Homo sapiens: one gene and its partners. The protein of the gene in region 1 purifies or fractionates together with the protein of each later gene. This does not show direct contact. Each region holds a gene or a part of one and is shown on either strand. Other genes may lie near its edges.

Region 1 (8,065 bases):
ATTGTCCTCAAGGTTTATCATGACATCAAAATAGACAACCTATCATTCCAGAGTTTCACCAAAGGTTTCACTTCAAGCTAAGTAGCATATAATTTCAGGAAGCAGTAAAACAGCTGGTTAAGCCTGATTTTTGTAGACCTGTAGAAGCCTACATTTTCTCCCCTTTACTAAACTTGACTGTTCTCTATGCCCTCAAAATGTAAATTTCCTCCTTAAAAATAAATTCCGGTAAGAAGCTGCCACTTATAACGCCTCTCCTGGAGGCTGCCATCAGTAAAGGCCATTGCAGGATTAGCCCATTAAAACTTTATTGTGGGAACATCACACCCAGTGCCAGTTACGAAATATTCTAACTTTTACCCTGTTTTCTGACATCAGTTTCTTGCTCTTAGGTACCTGCAGGAGCAGCCATCTTTTAGATGTTAATTCAACTCCCTTGGACTTCTCTGAAAGGAGTGGGGCCTGAGCACCAGCATTCACAAAATTTTTTGACCTGCATTGTCATAGGAGAATGACACCTTAAACAAAAACCAGGCACAGAGGAGTCTGACTAGGTAACTGAGATGAGAGAAGAAGGGACCTTTTTTCCTCATTTTATTGAGATGGGTCTCACTATGTTGCCCAAGCTGGTCTCAAATTCCTGGGCTCAATTGATCCTCCCACCTCAGCCTCCCAAGTAATGGGGACTATAGGAAACAGCCACCATGCCCAGCGAGAAGGGTACTTCATACAGATTTAATTCTACATTGGAAACCAACCTTGAGAAAAAGCCTACATTGTGTGTGTGTGTGTTGGGGCAGGGAGCGGTGTGTATGCTTCTGTCCAGATCTGAGTTCCTGAAAATCATAGTGTCTTATCCAGCTTTGTATCCCCAGTATCTAGTATAGTGCCTTATATATACTAAGTGCTTAATAAATGGTTATGACATGAATTACGGTTTGGATGAGTCCTTGTGCCACTGGAAACCCTCTCGAGATCACATTTAGAGGACTGCCACAGCAGCATGTCTGAGAGTCTTAGTTTGTTTAGTTTAACGCATTCTCTAACATGATGATTAACCCTCATGTAATCTCAGTCACAATTTTATCACTATAGATATTAATGAGCATGTTGAATCCAGCTGCTGCTGTGGTTTTACGTCCAGAATACCATAAGCCTATAAAATCCATTCCATTGGAAAGCAGAGTGGCCTTACATTAATTTCTAAGCTTTACACAACAATTAGGCAAAATTAGACAAGACTTCATGCTTTTTAAGTCCAAAGATTCCCTTTCTAGTTTTATTATGAAGCCAATACATCGAAGAATACTTTCCTCCCACAGTGCTTAAGACCAGTGCTAGATTACAAATACATAAATGGGCCATGACTTCCACCCCACCCACAAAATGATCCAGGCAGGAAATTCCAACTTGCTTGTCCATTGCTCAATCTACCCTTTGCTAAAGGAAGACATTTCTAGGTGAGGACATTTATAGTCAAATAAATTCTAAATGATAATGTTCAGTAACAGATCTTCTGAGCAAGGAAATATATCCACCTGTCTGGAAAAGACTCAAATTCTGTGTCACTTGTAATGGGCCAGTATGGAGTCTAAGCTGATGACAAAGCATCTCCTAGCTCTTCCCCTTCCTCTTCAGCTCTCCGGCTGTAACTCTGGGGAGGCTGTAGAGGCACAACATTCTCCTCTCTGGATTCTTCACTCATTACCTGTAAATGCTACATCACATGATCTCAGTTTCTTCAAATACCCTCTCTGTTGACTGCATGTTAATCTGTTCAATAGGTATTTTTATCCCAAAATAATGCAGGACCCAGAGGTGGAGAAATCTGTGGATTTGTGGTGGAAGAGAAATTATGAAAAGAAAAACTGAGCCAGATCCTGGTGAAGCAATTCTAGGGTTAGCAAGAAAACCAATTAGAAAAGAACTATAGTCTAAGGAGCCACATAGAGTTGAGAACCTGCTTACATTCATTCATTCCTTTCACACTTTTCCTTGAGTATCTATTACATATTGGTCATCTGCTAAGTTCTGTAATACAAAGATGAATGAGACCCTCCCCTTGAATTACTCACATTAAACAGTGGCGAGATTGTCTCTAATTGCTATGGCATACATGTGTACAAATATGCTTTGAAGAAGTCAGTTCTAAGTGATACCAAGGCTGCCTCACACTTAGACAATAAGAGAATCAGAGAGAAAAGCTTGTCATTCAGACAGTAGGTAGATTCAAACAGAAGATGTATGACAGAGAATAACTATTGACATAAATAGAGGCCAAAGATGGTGAAAAGGTGAGAGGGTGGGAGTGGTGTGCAAGACCCTGGAAGAGACTTTTGGGATGCAGGAGATCTGGGGATCCAGGTTGATTCTGGACATTTTAGAAATGCCATTCCTAAAGGTTAGATAAAGGATATAATTTGTTGTGGAGATTAAACTCTCTAGCCCTCCCCTACCATTTTCCATTCATCACATGGGATTGCAGCTACCTACCTTGAGTGGTTTGAGTTTAGGAAAGTTTTAGCTGAGGGAATCAACTGAAAGGAGTAAAAGTCACTGGTTCAGCAACAAACTGGCAGAGATCCATGTCCATGTCATTTGTTTGGCCTAGAGCCAATATTAATATTTTTATTGATGTTTTTTGGAAGGATGAGTCAAGACTCTATAGCGTAATTTGATGGATAACACAAAGACAAAAATTAACAGAATTACTAGACTTCTGTCCTTAGTGATTATTTACAGTTTAGGTGTTTATTTTCTGTCTTTTTCAACTAGACTGTAAGTTCCATGAGGGCAGGAACTTTGTCTTGTTTGTTCTTATTTTCCTAACATGTAGAATGGCGCCTGCAAATAACAGTTGCTCAGTAAGTAGTTTTACATTGCTTGAACCACAGTGATAGGCTGTGATGAGTACTGTGATAGCAGTATGCACTGGTGCTATGAGAGCACAGCATTCACTCTGTCTTGAGGTTCAGGGTAGGCTTCAGAGAGAAGGTGACATTTGAGCTTGAAGAGTGAGTAGCACTTCATGAAATAGAATGAGAGAGAATGGTATTTCTTTTTTTTTTTTTTTTTTTTTGAGAATGGTATTTCAGAAAGGGTGGAACACCATGAATAAAGCAATGTGTTATTAAAAAAATAGTATGTTTGGGGGATAATAAAAAGTTTATCTTTTGAATTCTGATACTTAAATAGTCAACAGTATGCATGGGAAGTAAATTTCCTTCCATACAGGCATACATTACTTCATGCAATAGTTGTGAAACAAGGACCACAGGGAGATGCAAGCAAATTACGTTTAAAAGACTATGGAGTAAAATTCTTTTGTCAGGTGGATTAATCTATCCCTAATGAATCTCTCCCGAGAAGCTTTTCCCTCCAAAGGTCTATCTTTTTCCAAGACGTTTATTCAGGGAGGTATCCTTCATATCTCCCTGAAAAGAAAGAAAAGTAAATAGTGGCTAATGCTTTTAACAATGATTAAAAAAATCAGAAAGGTCAAGGCTTTAAGGTCATTTAATGTGAAGAGGAAATAAGATAAATGTTCAGCATTTAAGGATTATCACTAACCCAACTTTTCATAAACACAGAATAGTGGAGGTGGAACCTGCAGAGACTTTTATTCAGGGAACATCCACTGCGGGACAGGCAGATGCTTTGGTATCCAGGCTGCTCCGCGCCGCCAGCTGCCCAAGTAATCCTCACAACAGCCCGCAGAGGTAGGTATTAACCACCCTTTGTTTTACAGGTGAGGAAACAGAGGCACAAGACGGTCAGGTAACCGGCTTGGAGTGATGAATGAAACTAAAATAAGCGCCGACCTCGAAGCTCATTTGGTCTTTCCCCAACCCCATGCGGCCTCATTAAAGAGACTTTTTTGATTAGCTATGGAGAAAACGTTCTTCATCAAACATGAAATGCAATCCGGAAGGCACAGGTTTCTCTCTCTCTCTCTCTCTCTCTCTCTCTCTCTCTCTCTCTCTCTCTCTCTCTCTCTCTCTCTCTCTCTCTCTCTCTCTCTCTCTCTCTCTCTCTCTCTCTCTCTCTGTCTGTATGAAGTGGCTTCTGGGGCCCCACGAAGCAATGTTCCCCCAAACAGCCCCGGACGAGGGTGTCTATAATTCATCCTGTTATAATTAACCCCGGGGTTACGGTATTGCTTCTAAAGCCCTTGTTGAAATGCAGATATGGACCTCGCAGGATTGACACGATCTCTCAATTACACCTAATTAAAGAGCTGGCTCTTTGAGAATCTGACCCGACTGGGCCAGGAGTGGGAAAGGCGGGGGCTGCCGGTTGGGGTGAGGGATAGGGTTCTGCAGTCCCGGGAAGGCAGGTGAAGGGTGGGGATCAGGATTGGAAGAGTCACTGGGTGCTCGGTGAGACGAGGGAGGTTGGAGCTGAACTAAAACAAAGTTTGACTTCTGGACAATTATCCAGGGAGAGGGCGGGGAACACACCTTGCCCGGACTGTCTGGGAATCCCATTGACAGGTCATCTCAGGTTCACCATCTTCCTGTCGTGGGCTCCTCCAGGGAGGCCACCCGGGAGCAATTAAACTGGGCCACACCAGCCACCTCCCACAGCAGCGGGGTCCGCAGATTTAACCCTTTCCCCCCAGATTCCGGCACTGGGTGCCGCGCTCTCTCCCCCAGCACCGCGCCCGCGCCCCCGGCTCCCGGACTGGGCATGCTCAGTAGCCGCCCGCTTCGTGCTCCCAGGGAAGCCTCTGCACGCCCTCCCCCGCTGCTCTCGGTCGCCTCCTCGCCGCCAGCCGCCCCGGGTGCATCCCGGCTTGCTCCGCTCCACGCGACCCAGATTCCTGCCCCGCCCCCGCCCCTTCCGCGCCCGCAGCCAGTGCGGCAGCCGCGGCCGCCCCTGTCCAGCCTCGGCGCCCGGGACCGAGCGCGTCGCTCGCCGCCGCGGAGCGCGTAGCCGGAGCGCCTGGGGAAGGCGGAGATGAAGACCACGCCGCCGCGCGCCGGGAGCTGCTGAGCCTACCGCCGCCAGAGTCCAGGTGATTGGCGACCCCAGAGGAGCCTAGGGAGTAGGGGCGAATGCCCTTGGGGAGGAGAGAGGTGCGGCGAGGACGCGAGGCATCACGCAAGCTGCGCTGTGCCTGGGAGGCAGCAGAAATGCTAAGCATCGGGGGCAGAGAGGGAACGGGAATGAAAGTGCACTCTGCCTTGGTGCAGGGGCTCCGGGGTCACCCAGGACAGTGATTTCCCCTTCTATCCTGTCCTCCCAATTAACACCCGAGAGGCTGCAGGTCGGCGCGAGAGGCTGTTTGCATCTCGGCCCGGGCGTAGGTCGCCTAGCGACCTAACGCCGAGGGCTCGGGGAAGGGATCCCAGACAGAGCCAAAATGGAAGGCGGGACAAGGGCGGCCTGGCTGGGGCGAGGGGCTGGTCTGGGTCCCTGGGAACCCCTTGCCTTGTGGGCTTCGGTCTCCAGGGAGGAGCTAGGCAGCCGGGCTGCGGGGCCGCCGGACTGTGGGGTCCTCCGCGCAGCGAGCTGGGAGGAGCGGTCGGCTGGGCTGTTGAGCTGCGCCTCCTCCAACTGCTGGGAAACTCCGCACTTCAATATTGGAGCATCTCTTTCCCGGGCAGGTAGAATTGGACAGCCGAGTGGGGAGTGACAGCTGACAGCTGACGGGGCTGTTAAAAGCAGAGCAGTGGAGTGTGGTGGTGGGGTGAGCTGTTGTGGGTGCTTTTTTTTGTTTTCCAAGTGTGGGTACGGGCTGTTCTGACTCAGTGTTTATGCTCAACCTCTAAGCGGCGAGTTCGGTAACACATCTTATGAATATTTCAGGAACGACCTCACGGGCTCACTTGCTTCAGATCAAGTTTAATGAATATGTTGTCAGCCTTTCTGCTCTGCACAGTGCCCTGAGCTTTCCACATTTCATCCCTTTCCCCCACCACCTAGGAAAATACGCTGCTAACCCCCAGTGGGCCGTAGATTGGTACTATCAATTGAGTCTGTCATTTGGAGAGACCAATTTTGGGCAGGCATCCAGGCATTGTTCTGCATCTCTGCAATGTATACGTTTTGTGCCGGTGGCTTGACAACCGTCCTTAACTGGTGCTGCCAATATGGTGGAAAGCAGGTAGTATGCTTGTATTGGGATAAATGTCTTAATTCATTAACCTATTATGACAACACGTAGTTACAGCAGACTTAGTCATTCCCTCCCCCAGAAGTTTTCTCGGGGGTCAGTTTAGTTGGTATTTTGCCAAAGGCACACTCTTGTATCTACATTGGGAGGTATTTCTCTCATCTTAATCTTTTTCATAGGAAGAAGAAATAAATGTCTTCTCTGTAAGACATCACTGTCAAGAACACTGAAAGAAGAACCCATTAACGTAGGGAACGTTGAGGACTGGAACAGGTTGTAGGGCGTCTTCCTACACTTTGGGTTATAACTTCCATTGCATCACCACCATTTACCAGTAAACCAGCACACACAGCAATCAGTACTCGAAATGGTTCTCTTTTGCAGAAAAAGCCTGCTTTTCTCCCAGCTTTGGTGAGATAGATACGTAATCTTCGTAAAGACCTATAAGGAATTCCTCTGTGGAACAAAATTTTAAGCCTCCAGTACAGGATGCTGAAAGAAGCAACTCTTTAATCTTGCCAGCCCATGCACAGTGAAGCTGAAGTGCTTCAATTTACAGATGTTTTACATTTAGGGAAGGCTTTTCCAACAAAGACCTACCGCAGTTACATCACAGGCTCCACCTCCGCCTGCCAGGCTGCTTCTGCAAGGCTGTTAGTAAGGATACTATGTATTGCTGTGCTTGATTAATGAAGAAAATAAATCTCCAAATCAAAGATTTGTTTATTTCTCTTTTTGCATTCTGCTGATTTAATTGAAAATATGAAAATTTCAAAAATTAATACTTGCAGCCAGGACTTAACTGAGGCATGATAATAACTCTATAAATGTTAGCTTTCCAAGAGATCTTAAGCAAAATTACAGTATTCTTTGTAAAATCTTCGATAAATTGTATTATAAGAAAAATTCTATGAAATGGACAAAATAAGTGAAAATGTCATGTAATAAATTAAGCAGCATTTCTTAAAGCACGTTACTGAGATGTTCAGAAAGAAACCTAGTTGCATTAACAGACATGAAATCTGGATGATTGAGAAGTTTGCGGAGCTTGCATACAAATCCCCAGGTGCATTAAAGGAAGCGTTCTCCGAGTCCTCTGAGAATTTTTAACAAAGCACTGTTAGGTTTTCCAGATTTAGCAAATAAAAAGGTGGGCTGCCCAGTTAAATTTGAATTTCAGATAAACAGTGAATTATTGTTTTTACCTATGTCCCATGTAATATTTGGTACGAACTTATACTACAAAATATTATTAGTTGTTTATCCTAAATTCAGTTTCGACTGGGCAGCCTGTATTTTTCTGGCAACCTTAGTTACTGGAAATGTTTCATTCCTCCTTTTTGGGTCATTTATGGGTTGAAAAAATAAAGTGGAGCAGAAATCATATGCTGTTCTGCAGACAATCTGGGACAAGCTCAGTTCTGGTTCAAGCTTTTGAAAATAACTCATGCTTAAAAGTGAACAGTTTCACTTCAACACATATTGGTTGGGTATCTCTGCTTGCTAGGCTTAGTGGAAGGTGCCAAGGATGCAAAGATGACATGGGGAAATGGGGCAGGGGGAGGGATCTGCATCATAAGTTCTGGGAGTTGCTGTGCCAGTAGTGTGTGTTTATGGTGGTGGTGGAGGGGCGTGTCTACTGTAGGAGCCTAGAAGAGGCACTGAATTATGCTGGGCAGCTGTAGTCAGGGAGTGAGACGCCTAGCAGTTTTGACAGGGCTGGCCTTGAATAAGAGAGCGAGATCTTATCCTGGGCGAAAATGAGAAAAAAAAAAAATCTCTGTGTTAATAGTTAGTAGAGTGGTGCTGGAAGTTGAAGGATTTGATCTGATAGCCTCAGTGAGAGGACAGAGTGGCCTGCTGAGAATGAGGGAAGGGAGGGGGATTCTGAAAGAAAGATTTTAAATAGTTGCCAATGGGAATGGAAGAGAGAGCTGAAAAGGGACA
Region 2 (8,003 bases), about 110 Mb from region 1:
GGCCCAAGGTCAGGGTGCATGTCTGCCCATGTGGCCCTCTGCCCGCTGTCCCTCCTGCAGTGTGCTGGGTGTGGCCCGGACCCTTCCTCTCTGGGTCCCTGGTCTCCATCCTCCCATGGGCCTCTTCACTGACCCTCCCCCGGCGTCCCATGCCCTGCACCCGGGTCCCTGCTTGCCCTGGGCTCGGGAAACGTACCGCCCGGAAGTCACGGTGGAGCTTGTTGTACTGCCACAGGTTGGCCAGGAGGCTGGATGCTGCCCGGGAGGACTTCTCACTGTCGGGGCTGAGGGTGGAGGGCAGTCAGGAGGGGACACACAGCCAGAAAGCAGGGTGGACTGGGAGGACCCCTGACCAGGCTGCTGCACGGCTGGGTCGGCCCCTACCTGTCCCGCTTCTTCTTGATGAAGATGAGCTTTCGGAGTCCGTCAAAATACAGCAGGTCTCGGGCAGCGATGGGGCTGGCCACCACCAGGTTGTTGAGCACAGCTATGATGTTGACCAGCACCTCGGCTGGGGGCGACTTCTCACCCACGCTGCCCGGCAGCTTCTCGATCAGGTGGCTCACCACCTTCGTGGCTGTGGGAGGCCGGGGGTCAGTCTGCACCCCTACTCCTGGCCACCTGGGCACCTGGGGTCCCCTGCCTCCCCCAGGGAGCTGGACTGGCCCCAGTGGTCTGAAGCCCACACTTAAAGACAAAATTGACATGTGGGTCCAGCAGGGCAGGGACGAGGGGCTGCCCGACTCACACATCTCGTCCTTGTTCCTAGCGTTCCGAGACAGGTTTCGGATGAGGCCAGTCAGTGAGCGCAGCTGGTGGTGGTCGGCGGTCCTGACACGGTCTAGCAGGGGGTTCAGAATACGCTCCTGCTCCAGGGCCAGGCGGCTCAGCACCCCCGCCCACTGTGGGGAGGGAGGGTGTGAGCCGTGACCCGGAGGCCTCAGACCCTCACCTGAGGGGGTCCTGCCACAATGGGGTCGCTGCATCCTCTCGCCACCCTCAGGGGGGCCTCTGCTTCTGCCTTTGCCCCCCAGCCGGGGGGAATCAGCCGCAGCCCGGATCAGGTGCCTCCCTTCAAACCCAGGGCAGGACTTCCATCCTCCCAAGGCCCAAGGCCTGCGCCACCGGGACGCTGACCTCCGAGGCTCCGCGGACCCTGGGCGTCCCCTTCCTCCTCCCCTCCCTCTCCCTCCTCTGTCCCCCCCTCAACCGCATGAACCCCTGGGACCCCCTCGGGTCTGGGTTGGGTGCCCCACCCTGCGGTCGCCTGCCGTGATGTTCTGCAGCGCCCCGGCGGCCGCCTCCGTCGTGTGCCGGTTGAGCTCGCAGCGCTGCAGCAGCCGGTTGTACAGCCCCACGATCTGGGGGCTCCACAGCCACTCGAGGCCCTTGGGGTCCTTGGACACCTCCGCGAAGGTGAGCGCATCGGCGGCGAGGGGCAGCTGCGCAGGGCGGGGAGGAGTCGGCGGGGTCGGGGTGAGCGGGTCGGGGTGAGCGGGTCGGGGTGAGCGGGTCGGGTGTGAGTGGGGCGGGGGTGAGCGGGGTCCGGGGTGAGCGGGGCGGGGGTGAGCGGGGCCGGGGGTCGGGGGTGAGCGGGGTCCGGGGTGAGCGGGGCGGGGGTGAGCGGGGTCCGGGGTGAGCGGGGTCGGGGTGAGCGGGTCCCGGGGTGAGCGGGGCGGGGGTGAGCGGGGCGGGGGTGAGCGGGGCCGGGGGTGAGCGGGGCCGGGGGTCGGGGGTGAGCGGGGTCGGGGTGAGCGGGGCCGGGGGTGAGCGGGGCCCGGGGTGAGCGGGGCAGGGGTGAGCGGGGCGGGGGTGAGCGGGGTCGGGGTGAGCGGGTCGGGGGTGAGCGGGGCCGGGGGTCGGGGGTGAGCGGGGTCGGGGTGAGCGGGTCGGGGGTGAGCGGGGCCGGGGGTCGGGGGTGAGCGGGGTCGGGGTGAGCGGGGCCGGGGGTGAGCGGGGCCGGGGGTCGGGGGTGAGCGGGGTCGGGGTGAGCGGGGCCGGGGTCAGTGGAGCCGGGGGTGAGCGGGGCCGGGGGTCGGGGGTGAGCGGGGTCCGGGGTGAGCGGGGCCGGGGTCAGTGGAGCCGGGGGTGAGCGGGGCCGGGGGTCGGGGGTGAGCGGGGTCCGGGGTGAGCGGGGCCGGGGTCAGTGGAGCCGGGGGTGAGCGGGGCCGGGGGTCGGGGGTGAGCGGGGCCGGGGGTCGGGGGTGAGCGGGGTCCGGGGTGAGCGGGGCCGGGGTCAGTGGAGCCGGGGGTGAGCGGGGCCGGGGGTCGGGGGTGAGCGGGGTCCGGGGTGAGCGGGGCCGGGGTCAGTGGAGCCGGGGGTGAGCGGGGCCGGGGGTCTGGGGTGAGCGGGGTCGGGGTGAGCGGGGCCGGGGTCAGTGGAGCCGGGGGTGAGCGGGGCCGGGGGTCGGGGGTGAGCGGGGTCCGGGGTGAGCGGGGCCGGGGTCAGTGGAGCCGGGGGTGAGCGGGGCCGGGGGTCGGGGGTGAGCGGGGTCCGGGGTGAGCGGGGCCGGGGTCAGTGGAGCCGGGGGTGAGCGGGGCCGGGGGTCGGGGGTGAGCGGGGCCGGGGGTCGGGGGTGAGCGGGGTCCGGGGTGAGCGGGGCCGGGGTCAGTGGAGCCGGGGGTGAGCGGGGCCGGGGGTCGGGGGTGAGCGGGGTCCGGGGTGAGCGGGGCCGGGGTCAGTGGAGCCGGGGGTGAGCGGGGCCGGGGGTCGGGGGTGAGCGGGGCCGGGGGTCGGGGGTGAGCGGGGCGGGGGTGAGCGGGGCGGGGGTGAGCGGGGTCGGGGGTGAGCGGGGTCGGGGGTGAGCGGGGCCGGGGGTGAGCGGGGCCGGGGGTGAGCGGGGCGGGGGTGAGCGGGGCGGGTGTGAGCGGGGCCGGGTGTGAGCGGGGCCGGGTGTGAGCGGGGCCGGGTGTGAGCGGGGCGGGTGTGAGCGGGGCCGGGTGTGAGCGGGGCCGGGGGTGAGCGGGCCGGGGGTGAGCGGGGCGGGTGTGAGCGGGGCGGGTGTGAACGGGGCCGGGGGTGAGCGGGGCCGGGGGTGAGCGGGGCGGGTGTGAGCGGGGCGGGTGTGAGCGGGGCGGGTGTGAGCGGGCCGGGTGTGAGCGGGGCCGGGTGTGAGCGGGGCGGGTGTGAGCGGGGCCGGGGGTGAGCGGGGCGGGTGTGAGCGGGGCCGGGTGTGAGCGGGGCCGGGTGTGAGCGGGCCGGGGGTGAGCGGGGCGGGTGTGAGCGGGCCGGGGGTGAGCGGGGCGGGTGTGAGCGGGGCGGGTGTGAACGGGGCCGGGTGTGAGCGGGGCCGGGGGTGAGCGGGGCGGGTGTGAGCGGGCCGGGTGTGAGCGGGGCCGGGTGTGAGCGGGGCCGGGTGTGAGCGGGGCAGGTGTGAGCGGGGCCGGGGGTGAGCGGGGCGGGTGTGAGCGGGGCCGGGTGTGAGCGGGGCCGGGTGTGAGCGGGCCGGGGGTGAGCGGGGCGGGGGTGAGCGGGGCCGGGTGTGAGCGGGGCGGGTGTGAGCGGGGTCCGGGGTGAGCGGGGTCCGGGGTGAGCGGGGCGGGGGTGAGCGGGGCGGGTGTGAGCGGGGCCGGGGGTGAGCGGGGCGGGGGTGAGCGGGGTCCGGGGTGAGCGGGGCGGGGGTGAGCGGGGCGGGGGTGAGCGGGGCGGGTGTGAGCGGGGTCGGGGGTGAGCGGGGCGGGGGTGAGCGGGGTCCGGGGTGAGCGGGGCGGGGTGAGCGGGGCGGGGGTGAGCGGGGCGGGGGTGAGCGGGGCCGGGGTCAGCGGGGCCGGGGTCGCAGCACCCACCCCACGCCCCGCTCAGGCTGGTGCCCACCTCGCGCAGCCGCCGGCTCTGCGGCGTGAAGCAGCCCACGACCTCTCCCGGCGGCGCCCCCGCCAGGTCCCTGCGGCCGCGACCCTCCAGCCGCTGCAGCGCGGACGGCGGCATCTCGTCGTAGAGGCGGTAGGACAGGTTCCGCAGGACGCACACCGCGTTCTCCACGCTCTGCGGGCGGGGGCGCGGGGCAGGGGCGCGGGTCAGAGCGGCGGCCCGGGGGCACGGCCCCTCCTCCACACCGCGCCCCTCACCTTGTCCTCGCATTTGCCCGCGTCCAGGGCGTGGTTGATAGAGGTGACCAGGGCGTCCACCAGCCCGTGGCACTCCCGCATCTTCTGGCGAGTGGCCTGAGAGGCTGAGCTGAGGTTCCTGGGGACCGAGGTGGATCAGAGCCCCCCAGGGACCCCGCATCCCGGGCCTTGCCCCAACCCATCGTGGGCCCTCGCACGCCCATCCCCAGCGCGAGGCGTGCGGTGTGTGGGCTGCGAACGCCAGGCCAGGCGGAGTCCCCACAGTGACCCGCGCCTGCAATCCCCACCCCGCTGCCCGAGGCTGGCGCACCTGAGGAAGCCGGTGGCGTTGTAGAAGATCTCTGCCTCCGAGGCGTTCTGCTGGATGAGGGGGGGACCCCCAGCCCCCGACAGGGGGCTCAACACCAGGTCTGTGAGCTGCTCCAGCGTGTCTCTGGCCAGGCGGTCCTTCAGGTGGTCGCTGGATGAAAGGTTCCACAGGATCCCTGGAGGACGGGGGAGGCTGCTATCAGCGTCTGCCCTCCAACCCCCTCCGCGTTTCTGGGGATGGTGTGAAGAGGTCCCGCCTCTCCCCAGGGGCTGGCCTGGTGTTCTGTGCCTCACCCACGAGCCCCACTGGGGAGACCCTGGGGTGGCATTTGAGGTGATAGAGCTGGGACCAAGCAAGAGGGGACAAGATGTGGGGGTGGGGTGGTGAGCAGGCCTGGCAGTGCAGGCGGCTCCAAGGAGACAAAACCACAGGACAGGGTGGCCGGGGGTCCAGGAAAGAGGCGGGCAGTGGAGGCCCAAGTAGAAACACGGCCGGCAAAAGGTACAAAGGGACGGAGGGGAACCGAATGAGGTGGAGGGGTCAGAACGGAGGAGAGAGGACAGGCAGAGGAGGGACAGGAGGAGGGGGACAGGCAGAAAAGGGGGACAGGTGGAGGGGGGGACAGGTGGGGGATAGGCAGAGGGGGCAGGTGGAGGAGGGGGGCCAGGTGGGGGGGACACAGAGGGAGGACAGGAGGAGTAGGGGACAGGCAGAGGGGGCAGGTGGAGGAGGGGGCAGGTGGAGGAGTGGGGCAGATGGCGGGCAGGTGGGGGGGTAAGGCAGAGGGGGGGAGGAGGAGTAGGGGGGCAGGTGGCAGAGGGGGCAGGTGGAGAAGGGGGGCAGATGGTGGGCAGGTGGAGGGGGGCAGGTGGGGAGGAAGGCAGGGGGGATAGGCAGAGGGGCGCAGGTGGAGGAAGGACAGGTGGAGGAGGGGACAGGCAGCACCTGTGACATTTTTGCGAAGCTCATCATCCTGCTCCCGCAGTGTCCGCAGCAGCTCGAAGATCCCGTTCTCCTCCACCAGGGCCAGCTTGTTGTCAGCGTTGTCGTAGATGAGGTTGCGCATGGCACCTGTGGCATGGCGCTGCACTTCCTGGTTGGCGTGGTTGAAGAGCTTCACCAGCCTAGGCACGGCCTGAAGGCTGCGGGCCTGCGGGCACAGGCATATGGGGGTGCACAGACGCATGTGGATGGATGCAGACTATGCACCTGTGTGCAGCTGTGTCCAGGTGCGTAGATGTAGATATGCAGGGGATGCAGCCGTATAGGGAGGTGACGGAGGTGTGTGCGGCGGTAGGGAGGTGACGGAGGTGTGTGCGGGGGTACGGAGGTGACGCAGGTGTGTGCGGGGGTACGGAGGTGACGGAGGTGTGTGCGGGGGTACGGAGGTGACGCAGGTGTGTGCGGGGGTAGGGAGGTGACGCAGGTGTGTGCGGGGGTACGGAGGTGACGCAGGTGTGTGCGGGGGTAGGGAGGTGACGCAGGTGTGTGCGGGGGTAGGGAGGTGACGCAGGTGTGTGCGGGGGTAGGGAGGTGACGCAGGTGTGTGCGGGGGTAGGGAGGTGACGCAGGTGTGTGCGGGGGTACGGAGGTGACGCAGGTGTGTGCGGGGGTACGGAGGTGATGCAGGTGTGTGCGGGGGTAGGGAGGTGACAGAGGTGTGTGCGGGGGTACGGAGGTGACGCAGGTGTGTGCGGGGGTAGGGAGGTGACGCAGGTGTGTGCGGGGGTACGGAGGTGACGCAGGTGTGTGCGGGGGTAGGGAGGTGACGCAGGTGTGTGCGGGGGTACGGAGGTGACGGAGGTGTGTGCAGGGGTACGGAGGTGACGCAGGTGTGTGCGGGGGTAGGGAGGTGACGCAGGTGTGTGCGGGTGTACGGAGGTGATGAGGTATATGTGGGGGTAGGGAGGTGACGCAGGTGTGTGCGGGGGTACGGAGGTGATGAGGTATATGTGGGGGTAGGGAGGTGACGCAGGTATGTGCGGGTGTACGGAGGTGATGAGGTATATGTGGGGGTAGGGAGGTGACACAGGTGTGTGCGGGGGTACGGAGGTGACGGAGGTGTGTGCGGGGGTACGGAGGTGACGCAGGTGTGTGCGGGGGTACGGAGGTGACGCAGGTGTGTGTGGGGGTATGGAGGTGATGCAGGTGTGTGCGGGGGTACGGAGGTGACGGAGGTGTGTGCGGGGGTATGGAGGTGATGAGGTATATGTGGGGGTACGGAGGTGACGCAGGTGTGTGCGGGTGTACGGAGGTGATGAGGTATATGTGGGGGTACGGAGGTGATGCAGGTGATACTGGTGTATCCAAATTGTATCCTTCTGCTCTTCCTCTGCTGAGGGGGCTCCAGACAGAGTGGGGTCTACCCAGTCAGCTTGGGGATCATGAGGGGTGCTCAGTGAGCAGAGGACAGTGGGAGGTGGTGGGGCCCACGAAGGAGGTCACCAGGGGGCAGCGAGTGGGTGGTCGGGGTGGTCACCTGCTTCTTGGCGGCTGCATCGCTGTAGCACTTGTGCTGGATGTAGGCCGCTCCCAGCACCTGCAGGTTGGGGTCTGAAGCCATGAGGTACTTGACTGCTGAGGGCAGGTCAATGTCATCAAAACTGCGGAGCCAGGGGTCAGGGGTCAGGCTAACTTTGGGTTCAGGCTGGGCCCGTGGTAGAAGCCCCCTCCCTGAGCCGGGCCCAGCCGCTCACCCGCTGCTGAGTCTCTGCAGGGTTCGGTGGCTACCGTAGCTGTTGAACCCATGCACGTCCGGCAGGTGGCCCGAGTCAGCCAGGCTGAGGCTGAGGCTGCGCACAGATGGCGCTCGAGCCACTGGCTCCAGGACGGCCCCCGGCACTGCCCCGCCTACCCCGCGGCTCCGGTGGCTGCTCTGGAATCGCTGCAGGGTCCGCACGGCAGGGGCACGGATGGTCCGGCTCGGGGAAACCTCAGTGGCCTCGGGCCAGTCCAGCCCCCCTGCCCGGCTGGAGCTGGAGCTGGCCTGGCGCTCGTACGCAAAGGCCCTGTAGGTGGAGGTGGCCGCGGGCTCCAGCTGCTCAGACACCAGGCTGTAGCGGTCGTCCAGGCCCCCGGGCCCCAGCCGCAGCGAGCGCAGGGAGAGTGTGTCATAGTCGGCCCGGCTCCCAACCCCACCGCGCTCATGGAAGGACACGGGCCTGGTGGGCATGGGAGGGGTGGGCTGGGCACCCCCGTACCCAGCGGCCCCAAAGGCGCTGCCCCCGTTGTGGGCTGAACTCAGCCTCCGACTGCAGCTCAGATCCACGGCGGAGCGGGAGGACCAGGAGGCTGGGCTGTAGGCCGGCTTGGCGATGGGCCGGAAGCCCTGTGGGTCGAGAGGGGGCGGTGAGGGCGTGCCTGGGCTCACCTGTGTCCGGGCCCGCTGCAGAGCCTCCCACTCTCCAGACTGCAGAGCTCAGATCGTCCCCCTCGGGCTGGGCCCATCGCTCACCGAGGTCTTGTCCCCACTCAGGCCCTGAGAGCGAGAGCTGAAGCCAGCCTGCAGGGTGTGGTACTGCCCCCTGGATGTGCCTGTGGAGAGGGACGGTGGTAGCCCAGCTCTGCCACACAGCAAAGCACTGGCCTCCTGCCTCCTCTCCACCACTCCATCGCTATTGGCAAC
Region 3 (8,003 bases), on another chromosome or scaffold:
TTTTAAAGGAGGATGATGTCTAAGGAAATTTGAAAGGTAATCAAACACACACACACAAAAAAAAACCACACACACAAACAAAAGGGAGCAAGATATGGAAGAGCATAGCACACCTAGGAAGCAGAGAGGCAAAAGGGAGTCTGGGAGCCAGCATGGAGGCATGTTCATGACACACCAGGCATTCTGGGCTTCAGTACAATGGCACAGAAGAGTTGATGAGGGCTGATGAGCGCAGGTGACCCTGCGGTAGGAAGCAAGTAGAAGAGACTAGAACAGAGAATTAGCCTCTGGGCTCTGGGTGAGTGCCTAAACTAAGACTGGTCACAGAAGTGGAAAGATCACCAAACAAAAATTTCCCAAAAAGGGCCCTCCTTTCCCCATAGAGTTTTTTTAAACATATAGATCCTCAGAGGAAGAATACTTCATACATTTTAGGTTGCCCTTGCAATATTTAGGTTTCATGGGGATCAAAAGCTGGGTTCTAAAATTAAAGAGAAGTAAATTTGTCAAACTGTATTGTTGCTGTTTTCAGGGATGAGCACTAATTAAAATGTAATCATTTCAAGGCATAAAAAATAACAGCTGACTTTTGGTGAGGATTTCTTTTTTGAAATAATCTGTGAGGTTTCAAAGCTATGCAAAGATCATGAGTGATTCTCACAATGATATTAGACACATTTTCCCAGAATATAACTCTACAGCAATTGAGTAGTGGTTTCGGGTAAGCTTTGAGTTAGCGGTTCTCAACCCTAGTTGTACATAAGAATTAGTTAAAGGTCTTCCAAAATTACTCATACTAGAGTCATACTCAAGATGAGACCAAGCATCAGCATGTTCAAGCCCTTTGGTGAGACTAATGTGCAGTTCAGGGCTAAAAACCCAGTGCCAGCTGCATTTCCAGAACGTTAGCACTAAGAATTTCAAGACTTTTTCCTGACCCAGACAAAGAAAGCATGAGAGTTGTTCAACTGATGGATTGTAGAATAGGAGAGGAATACCCCTATGGACACTTGTTTTCAATGGAGAAGCCCATGGTCTATTTTAGGAGAGAGGGGGCAGTGTGATGGTAGTGGGAGGGATCTGAGCCCAAACCTATGTTCCCAAAGGGCCTCAAATTGACACTTTTGATGTTAGCTCCAAATGAGATTACACATACAGTAATTGTATTGGGTATGTGCTAAAAACACTTCATTTCATTTATTAGATAGTGCCTTTGTTAGAGTTCAGGCCTGCAATGGTACATGATCCAGCTCACATTTAAATTCACAGAAATATAGAATAGGCAGAACCATGGCCTAGGGGCTACCAATTTTAGTTTTAGTCCTTTTCCAGAAAATGCTATGGAAATGTATAACTTGACCTTTCACTGTTCATAGTGCAGATGGCAAAATTGCCAAATTAATTGTTGTAATAAGACTAAAGCTGATTTTGCAACTTTGATAGTCTCTTCTTTTGTATCTGTTTTTAATTTTTAATTTTTGTGGGTACATAATAGGTGTACATATTTATGGGGTACATTAGCTGCTTTGATACAGGCATGCAATGTGAAATAATCACATCCTGGAGAATGGGGCATCCATCCCCTCAAGCATTTATCCTTCTATTCTTTATCTTTAATTAACCCACTTAGTAAAATGCATGCCATGCTAGAGAATTAGGAAAGTATGAAAAGCAACCAGAGTGGGCCCAAAGAACTAAACAGAGTGTATTCTAGAATCTTAGAAAACTTAAGCAGTGTCTATATTTATGGATTAAAATACAGAATTGAGGTGATTATTAGGGTAACAAATAGGAAATTTCCTCTTAAGAAACACTTGGATAGCTAAACATTTTTGATAGCTTTAATTTTTCATTATAGTCTATAAACAAAGTCTTAAAATAATTGTAAATATCTCCATTAAATTTAGTGAGTATTATTTGACTTCTATTTTAAGTGTAACTGTAATAAGGATTGAAGATAGGTCCTATCTCCAGGTCCTATAGCTGAATCCTGTATTCAATCCTCTTGATAACATATATTCATGATGCGTTTAACTTACATGTATGTGTGCATCTGCCCCAACCAGTTCAAGAGTCTTAGACTAAAGACGACCTTACTTTCCTAATCTGTCAGCAAAGAAATTCAATTACCTGATCGCAAACTCCTTGCCATCTAGCGCTAAAGTTCTATGTGATTTGGTGGTGCTGTATTTATAAACTTGGATATGTATACTCAATCCCCTAAAGGAAAAAAATGAGATTTTCTTACATATATTTGTATTTTTGTTCTAAATATACTGCCACCAAATGCTCCCCAGAATGATTCATCCAGTGACTTCCTAAACCGAGCAATGTGTGTTAACTCGACATTGTCACTTTCTTGGGCAGTGGCTCCACTCTTGCTGCTCCTGTGTTGCTGCAAACAGAGACAGCCAGAAGGCCTGGGAACAAGATTTGCTCCTGTGCCTGAGGGCGGAGAAGGAGTGATGCAGTCTTGGAGAATTGAAGGGGCCCATCCCGAGGACAGGGTAAGTGGACTGTCACTCTCCAGAGAAGTGTGGAGTTTCAGTGGAAATTGAGCATGTCTTAACAATTACATGCTGCACAAAAATGAACAGATGTCAGTTTTTAAATGTTTAACATAAAGCGTTTGTTTTTAAAATGTTTATTTTTCTTTTCAGGATGTGTCAAATATATGTGCACCCATGACAGCCTCAAATACCCAGGATCGGATGGATTCCTCTGGTCAGTAGACACCAAAATCTGTTTTTCCTTTTAAATTTTTCAAAATTATTCAACCAGACCAACTTCATGTAAAAGTACCTTATGGAAAAGTCTGTCAGTCTCTTTGGGTGACAGTATAATTAGAGGGAATGTGACCTGTTTGAAGTAGCCACTTTTTTTTTCTATCTGAAACTACAGACAGTGAAGTATGACACAGCAGTTAAAAGAGCAAACTCTGGAAGCAGAATGCTTGGGTTTGATTCCCAGCTCTGCCACTTGCTTAAGGGTTGCATATCTTTTATCCGAAATGCATAGGACCATGAGTTTGAGTTTGGCTCAAACTTTTTGTACCATGATGATCAAAAAGTTTCAGACTTAGGAGCATTTTGGATTCTTGATTATTGGATTTGGGATGCTCAACCTGTAGTAATAAGTCCTTAGTCAAGACATTTAACCTCACTGGGCCTCAGTTTCCTTATCTTTAAAATTGAGCTTATGATAGTACCTACTTTAAAGTGTTGCTGTGAGGAGTAAATAATACATATTACATATGTAATATATAATACATACATATATTGTATAGATTATTTTATTATATATAACATACATGTGTATGTGTGTCTATATATATACACACACACATATATAAGTGTGTATATATACATATATCACAAAATATACGTTAGAGTAGTGCCTGGCACTGTAGTAATTATTTATAATACAAGCTGTTTTTTTTTAAAGAGCTAAAGAAAAGGCAGTAAATGTACTCTAATAATACACTGAATAACTTTTCTTAACTTCAGACAAGCTTTTGCCTCAAAAGAGTGTCGTAAACTCTCCTATCTTACCAGCCCCACGCATATCTAACAATACTGAACACACTACTTAGCTATATGGCAATGATTGCACCAAACAGAGAGGGTGCTTAATTCTGCAGTGCACGTGAGCTTTCTCTGATGGTTCCTTAGTATCCCAAGCTTGGCCCTTTGTATGCAAAGAAACTCCGTGACTGAACATCCCTGTGAGCCCAGCTCCATCCTGTTCCGGAGTGAAGGAGGACTATGAGCTCAGTTTCTGCAATCACGCCGCTGGCCTTGCTTTGGAGGGCTCCCGGCTGGATCAAGCCCGCAGCAGCCACGGCGGGAACGGGCGCCTGCTTGTAGTTCTCTTGGCTAGTTCTACACCTTTAAGTCTAGGGCGAAGTCTGTGCAAATGTGGGAAGGCCACGTCCCACCACTGACTCCCTCTGTGTAATTAATTTACTTTTATTTGGTCAACAAGCCTGGAGATGTATCGGTGTAACTTGTATCTCTCTTTGTCAGCTTTTTAGCGCCTACGCCTTGCCGGGTGGTGGTGGCACCGCAGACGGCGGCGGCAGCGTTTTAGGCAGATGCGCGCTGCAGGCAACTCCAGCGCTGTTAAACCAACATCCTCCCTTTTCAGAAATCTACACCAACACCTATGCAGCCGGGGGCACGGTGGAAGGAGGTGTATCGGGAGTGGAGCTCAACACAGGTATGGGGACAGCCGTTGGCCTCATGGCCGCAGGGGCCGCAGGAGCCTCAGGGGCCGCAAGGAAGAGGAGCTCTACCATGGGAACCCTGCGGGACTACGCTGACGCAGACATCAACATGGCTTTCTTGGACAGCTACTTCTCGGAGGTAATGCCCTCACAGTCACACATAAAATCGTCTTGAGATTGAATAATAATAATAGTAAAATACTCACAATGGTAGTAGGCCTCTTCGGAAATATGCTGTTATTCTCAACCCTATCCCAAACCTGAATAAAAAGTATTTCACGTCTCCTTAAAACACAAAATGCTAATTTGCCACAGGATTTCATATTCAACTGCCATAGCGCATCTTAGTACCGTGAACAAGGCCACACCCCTCATCATTCTCCACTTCCCTTTTCCATTTTTCTATCTTTTGTTTCCTTGATTCCTCACCTTGTTTCCCACAGCAGTAGCAAAGCAGGAAAATGCTCATCAAGGGGAAAAAAGGTGCATTTATGACCTCTGTTTTTGATGTCCTTCATGTTCTCCCGGAGCCTCCAACAGAAAAGAGAAAATAAAAAGAATTGGGAACGAAAGGAGTTAAAACTCAGGAACGCAGCATCACCACAACTCGTGCTAGATTAAGACCTAGAAGATAGCTCTCCTATTCTCAGTCCAGTGACTTATCCACCAACTGACCTTCACTACGAAAAGGGGTCCAGCAATAGCACTGCTGGGTATATATCCAAAAGAAAGGAAATCAGTATATCAAAGAAATATATGCACCCCCATGTTTATTGCAGCACTAGTCACGTAGCCAATACATGGAATCAACCTGTGTCCATCAACTGATGATTGGACTTCTAAAATGTGATTCATATACCCAATGGAATATTATTCAGCCATAAAAAATGAAATTTTGTCATTTTGCAACAACATGGATGGAACTGGAGGACACTGTTAAGTGAAATATGCCAGGCACAGAAAGACTAATTTGACATGTTCTCACTCATCTGTGGAAGCTAAAAGGAAAAACCGAACTCATGGAGATAGAGAGTAGAATGATGGTTACTAGAGGCTGACAAGGGTAGTAGGGAGGGGAAACAGTGGGATGGTTAATAGGTGCAAAAATACTGTTAGAATGAAGAAGATCTAGTATTTGGTAGCACAACAGGATTGCTATAGTTAACAATAATTTATTACACATTTTAAAAGAACTAAAATAGAACTAGAATTTTATCTCATATTTCAGTCGGCCTGCTTTATTCTCCATCTGTTCATACATGAATTTCACCATGATTCTTTACCAAACAAATGCTGAAGATGTTGTTGCAATTGTAAACTATATCTTAAAATTGGTAGTTACAAATGCTATCACAGAATGTGCATGGATAGTATCAATTATTTTAATGAGTGATTGATACCATTATTCAGTTTATTCCGTAACAACTTAACTCAGAAGTCTCTCTGAGGGATTGCTGTTATTCTTCCTTATTTTAGGGAAAAAGAAATTTCTAATTCTGTATTTCCTTTTAATTTTAGAAAGCGTATGCTTATGCAGATGAAGATGAAGGTCGACCAGCCAATGACTGCTTGCTCATTTATGACCACGAGGGAGTCGGGTCTCCCGTAGGCTCTATTGGTTGTTGCAGTTGGATTGTGGATGACTTAGATGAAAGCTGCATGGAAACTTTAGATCCAAAATTTAGGACTCTTGCTGAGATCTGCTTAAACACAGAAATTGAACCATTTCCTTCACACCAGGCTTGTATACCAATCAGTACTGACCTCCCTTTGCTCGGACCTAATTACTTTGTTAATGAATCTTCAGGATTGACTCCCTCAGAAGTTGAATTCCAAGAAGAAATGGCAGCATCTGAACCCGTGGTCCATGGGGATATTATTGTGACTGAGACTTACGGTAATGCTGATCCATGTGTGCAACCCACTACAATTATTTTTGATCCTCAGCTTGCACCCAATGTTGTAGTAACCGAAGCAGTAATGGCACCTGTCTATGATATTCAAGGGAATATTTGTGTACCTGCTGAGTTAGCAGATTACAACAATGTAATCTATGCTGAGAGAGTACTGGCTAGTCCTGGTGTGCCTGACATGAGCAATAGTAGCACGACTGAGGGTTGTATGGGACCTGTGATGAGCGGCAATATTTTAGTAGGGCCAGAAATTCAAGTGATGCAAATGATGAGTCCAGACCTTCCCATAGGCCAAACCGTTGGCTCCACATCCCCCATGACATCTCGACACAGAGTAACACGATACAGTAACATACATTACACCCAACAGTAAGTGCTTTATGGTCAGTATTCTATGTGGAGACCTTGCACCTTGTAATCATCAATACATCCACCAAAAATATATAATGTACCATATATATTAATAGTCAACAAATACTCAGATATTCTAAGGTCAATGCCATTATTTGATTATACCATTTTGAGGGTGAATATGGCTAGGCACTTTAGATAAGCCTTTTTAAAATTCTTTCTGATTTTAAATAATGCGTCAAAAAATGTGCAGAAAATGTATTGCATCCCTTGATACTGTCTAACGAATAGCACATAACTCATATTGTGAATCCTATGGGTCTTGAGGCCTGTAGAACCAATCTTGTAAACCAAGATGCCTTGTTCTTGGAAGTTACAAAAGAAGCCCTGTCTACATCCACCAGCCATATTTTTCGTTAGGGAAATATTTATATTAAAATTTTTAATTGAAAAGTTGAATGAAATGTACATTCTGAAAGGAAATTGAAAAGGAACGTAGAGTATCTGTCAATATCTTTAGATATCTGAAGTCATTTGTCTCTTCAAAAGATTTTTCAATATTATGCGCTATTAAGCAATAGGAGATGCTTAATATAATAAGAAAAGAGTTTGCCAACTGAAAGCATGGCTGGAAATGGTTCATCAAAGAAAAATATATATTTTTATTGAACTTTATTGATTTATATGATTAACTGTAAATTAATCTAGAATAGCAAAAAAAAATGACAATCCTAAAGTAGAAAGAGTTATTGGGGAAATATTAGAGTTTTCCCCACTTACAGGGAATTTTTTCCCTACTGTTGCCAATTATGTCAGAAAAATACATGAAATATGGCTTAACCAATTTCATTGACCTGAATCGTAGAGCTTTCAATTGGCAACCAGATATTCTCCAAAAGCACTCTGTAGTTATTCATATATTCTACAATATTTACTTAGAAGCAACTAGGTGTTGGGTGCTAGTCTTGGCTCTGTGAATATACAGGTAAAGAAGACAGACATGGTTTCTGCCTTCATAGAGCTTCTATTCATTTCTAGACTTAAAATAAAACTCTGGGATATGGCTTTAAGTTCCTAACAACAATAATTAACCAACTACTTAAGTCCATTACCAAGTTGTGTTTCTCTTTGCAACACTACTGTTTATGTTGAATAAATAAAATGGAAACACATTGCTTACTTTTCGTAGGCATAAAGCTGACTTGAGAAAAAGAATCTCTAGCCAGGTAATTTTACTTAATTCTGTAAAATATGTATACAGTAGCAGCAATAATGTGACTGAGATAATGTAAATGAAATAAACTTATTTTCAAGGCTTAATCCTTTTGAAAGGAAATAATTGTAGTGTTTCTTGCCTATCTTTTGCTCCTTTATGAATAAAACTATTGTAGAATTTAAGTCATCTCAGATAACCTCTTACCTAGTTCTCTCATTTTCTGGACAATGAATCTAGAAATAGAGAGGTTAAATGACCACAACCAGCTAGTTGTGGTACAAAGCCTTGAACCCATTGT

What was found. Proteins that work in one complex are often made in the same cells at the same time.
Region 2: the proteins of ELMOD1 (region 1) and PKP3 purify together in Homo sapiens (affinity purification with mass spectrometry; 2 studies listed by BioGRID and IntAct, with this or other methods). This does not show direct contact.
Region 3: the proteins of ELMOD1 (region 1) and DSG4 purify together in Homo sapiens (affinity purification with mass spectrometry; 2 studies listed by BioGRID and IntAct, with this or other methods). This does not show direct contact.

What each region holds. Positions count from the first base shown.
Region 1 is NC_000011.10:107,586,393-107,594,457, forward strand, and holds the start of ELMOD1 (ELMO domain-containing protein 1), read left to right. Parts: upstream 1-4,754; 5' UTR 4,755-5,017; intron 5,018-8,065. UniProt on the Homo sapiens protein: Acts as a GTPase-activating protein (GAP) toward guanine nucleotide exchange factors like ARL2, ARL3, ARF1 and ARF6, but not for GTPases outside the Arf family.
Region 2 is NC_000011.10:396,517-404,519, reverse strand, and holds part of PKP3 (plakophilin-3), read right to left. Parts: intron 7,913-8,003; coding exon 7,833-7,912; intron 7,707-7,832; coding exon 7,075-7,706; intron 6,982-7,074; coding exon 6,858-6,981; intron 5,529-6,857; coding exon 5,324-5,528; intron 4,554-5,323; coding exon 4,379-4,553; intron 4,187-4,378; coding exon 4,069-4,186; intron 3,986-4,068; coding exon 3,815-3,985; intron 1,443-3,814; coding exon 1,257-1,442; intron 903-1,256; coding exon 749-902; intron 578-748; coding exon 385-577; intron 285-384; coding exon 197-284; intron 1-196. UniProt on the Homo sapiens protein: A component of desmosome cell-cell junctions which are required for positive regulation of cellular adhesion. Required for the localization of DSG2, DSP and PKP2 to mature desmosome junctions.
Region 3 is NC_000018.10:31,407,085-31,415,087, forward strand, and holds the end of DSG4 (desmoglein-4 isoform 2 preproprotein), read left to right. Parts: intron 1-2,367; coding exon 2,368-2,507; intron 2,508-2,660; coding exon 2,661-2,724; intron 2,725-4,025; coding exon of another isoform or gene 4,026-4,146; coding exon 4,147-4,364; intron 4,365-5,743; coding exon 5,744-6,511; 3' UTR 6,512-7,825; downstream 7,826-8,003.